Linked DNA regions of Homo sapiens. The protein of the gene in region 2 purifies or fractionates together with the protein of the main gene of each other region. This does not show direct contact. Each region holds a gene or a part of one and is shown on either strand. Other genes may lie near its edges.

Region 1 (3,693 bases), on a different chromosome or scaffold from region 2:
TGACATAGCAAGACTCCGTCTCAACAACAACAACAACAACAAAATATATATATATATATATGTATATACGACTCCTGTGAGTGTATTACAAATATTAATATGAAATAATGACATTAAAAAATAATAGCTACCTGCACGTGTCAGCACCACAACCACTGTGTAAACCAAGGTGTCACAATGCATATTTTATTGTTTCTTTTTATGTTGATTGATCTGGCACCTTTCTTAATCAGAATCTATGAGGACATATTCCTCTGATTAACTAAAAATATGTATATGCACTGTACACTCTGTAGCCTAAATGTCAATATGAACAGTAAATGCAGATGGCATAGACTCATCCCAGTTTTAATAGTGTCCAGCAGTTTCTTTAAGCATACATTTCTCATCTCCTCCTTGAAATAAAATTTTAGAAATGGATCTTGAGAACCCTGTTTACTTTGTCCGAAAAAAAAAAAAATCCCTTCACAACACTAAGAAACTTAAAGCACTTTCATAAATAGGGAAACAGCATCTTTTAATGTTTTATTGTTCACTTGCAAAAATATATATAATATATATTACATGTATAGCATGTATAGAGGAGCCCCACAGCTTGAGTCAGAGAAAGCTAACAGAAAGGCACATATGGAGGCATGTCTTTTCATACAATATTCAGTTAAGCCAACATTCAGGCCATGGCAAGTGACAGTTAGGACAAGGACAATATAGCACACCTGTGTTCACGATTCCAAAGAGCTAACTCAGAGGCAACTCTTAGGTCTGCCGAGAATGGAGGTCATCTTGGGAGAAAATATCACATCTACTTAATAGGCCTGTCAGGCCATCAGAGAATATACTGAAATCTGGAAAAAGACACCAGGGCAAGGTGAAAGCCAGTCCTTGACTTGACAGCTAGTTTGTTCTTCTCCCCTTTTATTTTAAGACTTGAGGCCTTTGCTGATTAAAAGAAGCAAATAACAGTGCCGACTGTGGCCCTGCAGGATTTTGGTCAGCTACATGACAGAAGTTTGTAACAGACTAAATATTTTCAAAAGTTTGTAAACACTGTGATGATGGTGAGGAAAGCATAGAAAGAACATTTGCTATTTCTCTCTCACTGAAAAAACAGAGGCATAGATCTTTGGCTTGCCACATGTGGTATCTCTATCCTGACGTTTACCCAAAATGGTAAAAATAGAGGCACAATTTGTGGAACAATGAGGTCATTCCTACCAGACACCAGCAAAGGTGCCTACTAGGATTTGGCACAGCCAGAGCAGCTGGCAACCTTGGTTGATGTGAGATGGGGCTTCACGACGTCCGGCTCAATAGACTCCATTAGGTCACACTCATTTGCAAGTATGTGTTTCACCAGGCATCTGGAGGCTTCATCAATGTTTATATTTTCCTATGAGGGAAAAAATAAAACAGCTTTTCTTATTCAATACTCTGAAATAATGCTAGAGCAGAGACTTATATGTGACAATTCATTTAAATATTCCTTCCTATATGCTACATATGCATCCCCCTCCTGTTTCCCTCACTCTTATTTGTTCCTTCAAAGAACTTTACTGTTTGGTTCCTCAAAAAAGAAGTATTTATTTTGCTATGTCATATAGGAGGAATGGTGTCTGGTAAATGTACTTAGTAGGTTAAATTTCAGTTAGAGGGCAATTTTCTTATTTTCACATTTTCACATACTCAAACTATAAAAATATTGTAGAAGAAACATAAACCTTTAATCTGACTTAGATTTATAATTGCCCTCTGCCACATACTATTTTTGTGACCTTGATATAAAATAAGAATGATAAGACATCTTTTATAGTATGCATTAATGGTTTCACAGATATTTCTGGGTCTCTATATTCTAGTGAAATGGGGAAGAGTACACTGTTCTGACCTCTTTGAACTTAGCCATGGACATGTGACTTGTTGGGCGTCAAAATGTGAGAAGTAATGTGTGTCACTTTCATATAGGAGCAATAAGAGCCAGTGCTCAGTTTCCTGTTTTTTCTGTTTCTCCCTGTGGAAGCACAGCAATGGAAACTCTTTTGGATAAGGTCTGTGAGTGAGAATCAAGTAGAGGCAAGTATCCCAATCAGCCCATGCTATGTAGTGTGCATGAGAATGATGATCTTTGCTATTTTAACCCACTGAGATTTGAGGTTATTACCCCAAATAAACCCTGGCATTATCTAGACATTCCAGATGGATATAACTCCTCAAGGAAAAAAGTAAAACTGGAAATATAAGTTTAGGTTCAAAAATGAAATAAACTTGAATTTGGAAAAAATATGGAGCAAACATTTGAATCTAAAATATGTCAGTAGTATAAGTTAAACTGCTTTTTTTGTTCCTGCTGGTCAGAAACCTAAGACATATAGAAAATATACTACCAGTGTACTAAAATAAATATCTTTGATTAGGTAAAAAGTAGTTAAAGATCTGCAATAAAGTTAAATTTGATTGTTTTTAATCACAATTTGTAGAACTTCTTTGATGTATTTCTTCATACTTAAAGAGACAAGGCTTTCTCGTTGTTAAAATGTTTTACTACAGAACCTTGTTGTCCAATCTGAAGTGGAAATACTTATCCCTGATTTTTGCATGTATGTCAAAGTTGTTGATATATTTTGAGATCATTGAATGGAGTCATATTACTTGGAAAATATAAGAAGTACTGTTGGCTTCCAAATGGCATCCATGACTAATGACCTTAGTTGTAAATGTTTATTAGCAGGTTCTCCATCCTTCAAGCCTGAAACTGAGTTCACCAGCTATGAAAGCTTAAGGTAACTTTGGAGTTCCAGACAAGTATAGCCTAATTATTTATCTCCTCTCTAGAGAGCCTTAAAGAAAATGTTTCCCAGGCTTTCTAAATCCAAAACACAAGGTAAAAGTGTGATTGCTTTTTTGCTTATTATATTATTGTTGTTGCTTTTTACCAGACCAGTCTTCCTTTCTCTAAGCCTCCCTTTCCCCAGCTATAAAATGGTCTTGATGATAACACTTACCTAATAAAAATTTGCTTCCCTTGACAGAGTGCAGCAGACATTATTGCTTTCACAATGTGAACTTGCTAGGGACTTCAATAGTAAGTAAGTAATCTTATTTAATCCCATTTAACACCCTTTAAGATAAAGATTATGTTTTTTGTCCATATGGATTTTGTTATTATTGTTGGGGTAAGGGTGGGGATGGCATTTCTTCCTTCAGCTCAAGTATCTTCCTCACTCTATGGAATCCAGTCCTGAGAGAACAGCAATGCTTCTGCCCCATCCCCTGTTGGGCAACTTCCTGTGCCTTAAAGTCATTGCCTGTGCTTAGCATGTCTTCTGCCACTCTTCCTCTTCTTAGTGTCACGTCTAAGGGTCACACCTGAACTCCCTGCTCCCAGGCAACCAACTGACCTAGGCAGGGCCTTGCTTTTTGGAACGGACCCAGCTCAACACTTTGTTCCGGAGCCCTGCCACTTGCTATGTGACTGAGTGGAAGCCTGTCCGATGGTCCCCTACTGTGTCCCATTCAGGAAGGTAAAAAGGGGTCTCCTCGCCCAGACTTCCACTTAAGAGCCATCACATCTCATTAAAGAAGCCCTATTTGAATGGTTTTAACGTACTTGCCTGGCCATTAATAAGCCAATACTTTGATTCCCATTTGGCTATTGTTTGTGTGTTGGAGAAGGAGGCAACAAAATTATACCCCAAA
Region 2 (4,200 bases):
TTTACCCTTACATTAGTCTATTAATGTCAACCCCAATTAAAAAAAATAAAACCTTACAGAGAAATCCATCCAATCTTAATCAGTTTGATCATGAACTGAGATTGTTATAAATCTTTTATAACCTTTTACAAATTTTTTTTGTTAAACAGCATGTAAGTGCTTCAAGAAAACCTTGTTGTGCTTGTATTCCATTGTTCAACTTATGGAAAACCAAATAATATCCTTTTTAGTGTAGTCAATATGTTTACACACAGGATTCCTTTTACAAGATTAATTTTTTACAAACCTTCCATAACTTGTTTGAACCTTAAGCTTTATCTTATATAATTTAAAACAATCATTTAACCCTCTGAACTAGGCAAAAATTTACATTCCCATGCCTTCTTATATTATTTTACTAATGATACATTTTACTCTCCTTACTCACCTCACGTGTAGATCTGTTTTCAGTAGTCATCACTACATGTTATAATGGTAGCTCTTAGTAATTGTTAATTTTGGTGAAATACCCAGTAAGTTATTTTAGTTACGTACTTAGGTGCAGATGAGGTCTAACTATTTCCAGCATAGCTAGGGCAGGCCCTACCAAACTGCAAAGCAGGAAAGTTGAACAATTTTCAAAAGCCAAAGCAGTTTATGACCTTAAAGCATTTAGTCAACCTAGTTTCTGACTTGCATAATTTAGACCATGTCTATATTTTGAAGACATTTCTATTTTCATTTTACTGATAATTTAAAAGACAGCCTATTTAGCAAAGTCATACTTAAGTGAATTTGAAAATTGCTTAGACTTATTTACTTAATTTATGAACACTCTTTTACTTATAAGCCAATTTGGTAGACACAACATATAACAGTAAGTGTACATACAAGTAAACACATCTAGACATGTATACACACACACAAATGAAGAGGTGGAGCTTAAAACACCCAAATTGGGTGCAGTGTATACTGCTTGGGAGATGGATGCACCAAAATCTCACAAATCACCACTAAAGAACCTGCTCATGTAACCAAATAATACCTGTTCCCTCAAAACCTATGGGAAAAAAAAACTAAAAAAAATACTTAAATGGTATCACAGAACTAATTAGCCGAATACAGTATCTAGTACCTGGCTGTCACCCAATACTTGCCTCATACCATCACATCTAGAAAACAAGTAGATATTCTTTTTGGAAGAGCCCTGAGGGAGCTACTAGGAGGTTTGCACGGCCTGCTCTCCTGCCCTCTTCTTGCTCTGTGGCTGAACTTCAATTCTCTTCGGGCTTAGACCCCACTGACTCGCTCCCGGGCAAAGCAAACGATTTGATCAGATGGCCACGTGCATTCTTCCTTTTCCTGAAACCAGCACCATAGGGTAAAAGATTATTTCTACTTGGTTGCCTTCCAGATGTTTCACACTTGGACAGCAAACTGATTTCAAACCACTCCTTTTCAAAGATCTCTGAGGGAGACATTGCACCTGGCCACTGCAGCCCAGAGCAGGTCTGGCCACGGCCATGAGCATGCTGAGCCATCATGCCCACCGTGGATGACATTCTGGAGCAGGTTGGGGAGTCTGGCTGGTTCCAGAAGCAAGCCTTCCTCATCTTATGCCTGCTGTCGGCTGCCTTTGCGCCCATCTGTGTGGGCATCGTCTTCCTGGGTTTCACACCTGACCACCACTGCCAGAGTCCTGGGGTGGCTGAGCTGAGCCAGCGCTGTGGCTGGAGCCCTGCGGAGGAGCTGAACTATACAGTGCCAGGCCTGGGGCCCGCGGGCGAGGCCTTCCTTGGCCAGTGCAGGCGCTATGAAGTGGACTGGAACCAGAGCGCCCTCAGCTGTGTAGACCCCCTGGCTAGCCTGGCCACCAACAGGAGCCACCTGCCGCTGGGTCCCTGCCAGGATGGCTGGGTGTATGACACGCCCGGCTCTTCCATCGTCACTGAGGTAAAAAAGCCTCTGTAACATGGGAGTTCCTGGGACAGGGAGAAATATAAAGCAAATCCTATGAAGTTCAGTTCCATATCAGGAAAGAGGTAGGGGGCTATGTTTATTGTGCAGTTCGTGGGTGTCTGGCTGTGTCCCAGGCACGGGGCATTCTCTTCTCTAGTTTAATCCACCACAAACTCTGGGTCTTTGAGGAGGAAGCTGAGGCAGGAGAGAACAGCTAGCACAAGTCGGGGGCCAGGTTGCCAGGTTGCTTGAATGGGAGTTGACTGGGAGACCAGGAGCCTCTCTGCCTGCCCCACTGGCTTCTCCCAGAACTATCAACTTGCTCTGGGTCCCGCTTCCCCACCAATAGTACTGTGGGCCCCCTCCTTCTGCTCAAGAGTGATGACGATTGACCTCAATGATGGTGTTGAGGTGGCCTGGAATTGCCCTGGCTTGGAAGTGAGAATATTTGGTGGAATCCCAGCTGTGCCCCTTATTAGCTGAGCATCACTGGGTAAGTCACTGCCTCTCTAAGCCTCATTTCCTCATCAGTCAACCAGGGATGATGACGGCTGCCTCATAGGGGTGTGAGCTTCAGCTGGGATCTGTGAAAGCACTGAGCAAATCCAAACTGAGTCACACCGTGCAGTCCGATGGGGCCCATGGGATAGGGCGATGGCCTCAAAAGGGCCTTGCTTGAGTAGTTTACTTGGTTATTTGAGCATTTTGCTTTGAGAATCCTTTAGTAAAAAGTGTCACCACATTTTTTTCCCATCATGAGCCCTTTTGAAACTATTGCACGGTAACAAGTGTGGATGCTTGGTGGGTTGGAGAAGCTGTGGGCCAAAGCCCGTCAGGGGCCTTCTGTTAGTAACGAGCAGTGGCGTGGTTTTGGTGCAGGCACTGCTTCCCTGAAATAAGAGGTAACTGGGCCCTCCCTGCCTCTGGTCCTGCCCACTTGTCTGCCCCCACTACCCTCGCCCAAGCTCTCCGGACTTCTTGGGTCTCTGTTCTTCCTCTTTTCCCTTTCCTGAGTGGTATCAGCGGTGACACATTTAGGGCTATTACTGGAGGAAAGCTTAGGGTCCCTCCCCTCTGGGCCTGAGCATTGCTCTACCTGCTTGCCTGGAGCAGAGCAGGTGCCGGTGCAACTGGCTTTACGATGCTGAAGAGACATCTTGTCTCCAAGGCATCCTCCAACAATGGATGACAAGTTAGGCAGCCCACCTTCCAGGGATCTCCAACCATCTGACATTCCCACTGGGAATCTAGAAGCAGACCAGGATGAGGATGTGTTTGCTCTCTGGGACTGAGACATACTCTGCTTTGAGGAGATCAGATGTGATCATTCCTCCAGTCAGACATCCACCCAGTATGTTCGGCATACTCCCTCTATTCTGGCACTGGGTGTGATGCCGCAGGGGAGATGCAGAAGAAGATTGTGAGGTCCCTCAAGGAGTCTGCAGTCTTGTGGGGACTGAGAGGGGAAGAGGATGGCAAGAATGAGACCAGTGTTCGTTTAATGACAGCCCAAGGCCGCCTGTGGTGAATGCCATGAGCAGGGCGGAAAGGGACTGGTGGGCTCTAAGAAGGTAGAGATCTCAGCTGCTGAGCTCTGAGCTGATCATAGACGTCTTCTGGGAGGAGGTGGCTTTGAGCTGAGCCTCAGCTGGTATTTGGACCAGCAAGGAGAGGGGACAGGTGGAGTAGAGGGGAGGGGAAGTAGATCCCCAGACCAAGGGGAGAGCTTGAGCCTAGGCTCAGGGCCCAGGGAGTGTTTGCTGCATTCAGGGTGCAAGGAGCACTGATATGAGGGTCATGATATGAGGAGTTGTGGGGAGAACACTGGTGTCTAACCTTGGGGCCAGAACACGGAGTGCTTAGTGTGGGGTTGCCAGGTACAATACAGGATGCCCAGTTAAACTCGAACATTTGAACTTCAGATAATCCAACTGGATAGGATACTTACTTCCCAGATACTGCATGATATTTGGTACTGATAACTGAGACTGGAAATGCAAATATTGCATGAACATACTTATCCTAAAAAAAAAAAAGTTGTTTATCTGAAATTCAAATTTACCTGGGCATTCTGTATTTTTATTTGTGAACCCTGGCAACGCTACCTTAGTGCCCAACAAAGGAGTTTGGGTCTTATTTAGGCAGGCAAGCAAGGTGACCCTAGCTGGACTCGTGAATGGGTGGGAAGGGGCGGTGGTGGGATTGGAGGCTTCAGGAGAGGTAGAGAGATGCATGAGGAGGCCAAGAGTGAGCCCCGGTAAG

Evidence for each region. The genes of interacting proteins can lie anywhere in the genome.
Region 1: the proteins of SLC22A1 (region 2) and RAB38 purify together in Homo sapiens (affinity purification with mass spectrometry; one large-scale study listed by BioGRID and IntAct). This does not show direct contact.

The regions. Positions count from the first base shown.
Region 1 is NC_000011.10:88,112,751-88,116,443, forward strand, and holds the end of RAB38 (ras-related protein Rab-38), read right to left. Parts: intron 1,391-3,693; coding exon 1,238-1,390; 3' UTR 501-1,237; downstream 1-500. UniProt on the Homo sapiens protein: The small GTPases Rab are key regulators of intracellular membrane trafficking, from the formation of transport vesicles to their fusion with membranes.
Region 2 is NC_000006.12:160,120,415-160,124,614, forward strand, and holds the start of SLC22A1 (solute carrier family 22 member 1), read left to right. Parts: upstream 1-1,400; 5' UTR 1,401-1,521; coding exon 1,522-1,932; intron 1,933-4,200. UniProt on the Homo sapiens protein: Electrogenic voltage-dependent transporter that mediates the transport of a variety of organic cations such as endogenous bioactive amines, cationic drugs and xenobiotics. Functions as a pH- and Na(+)-independent, bidirectional transporter.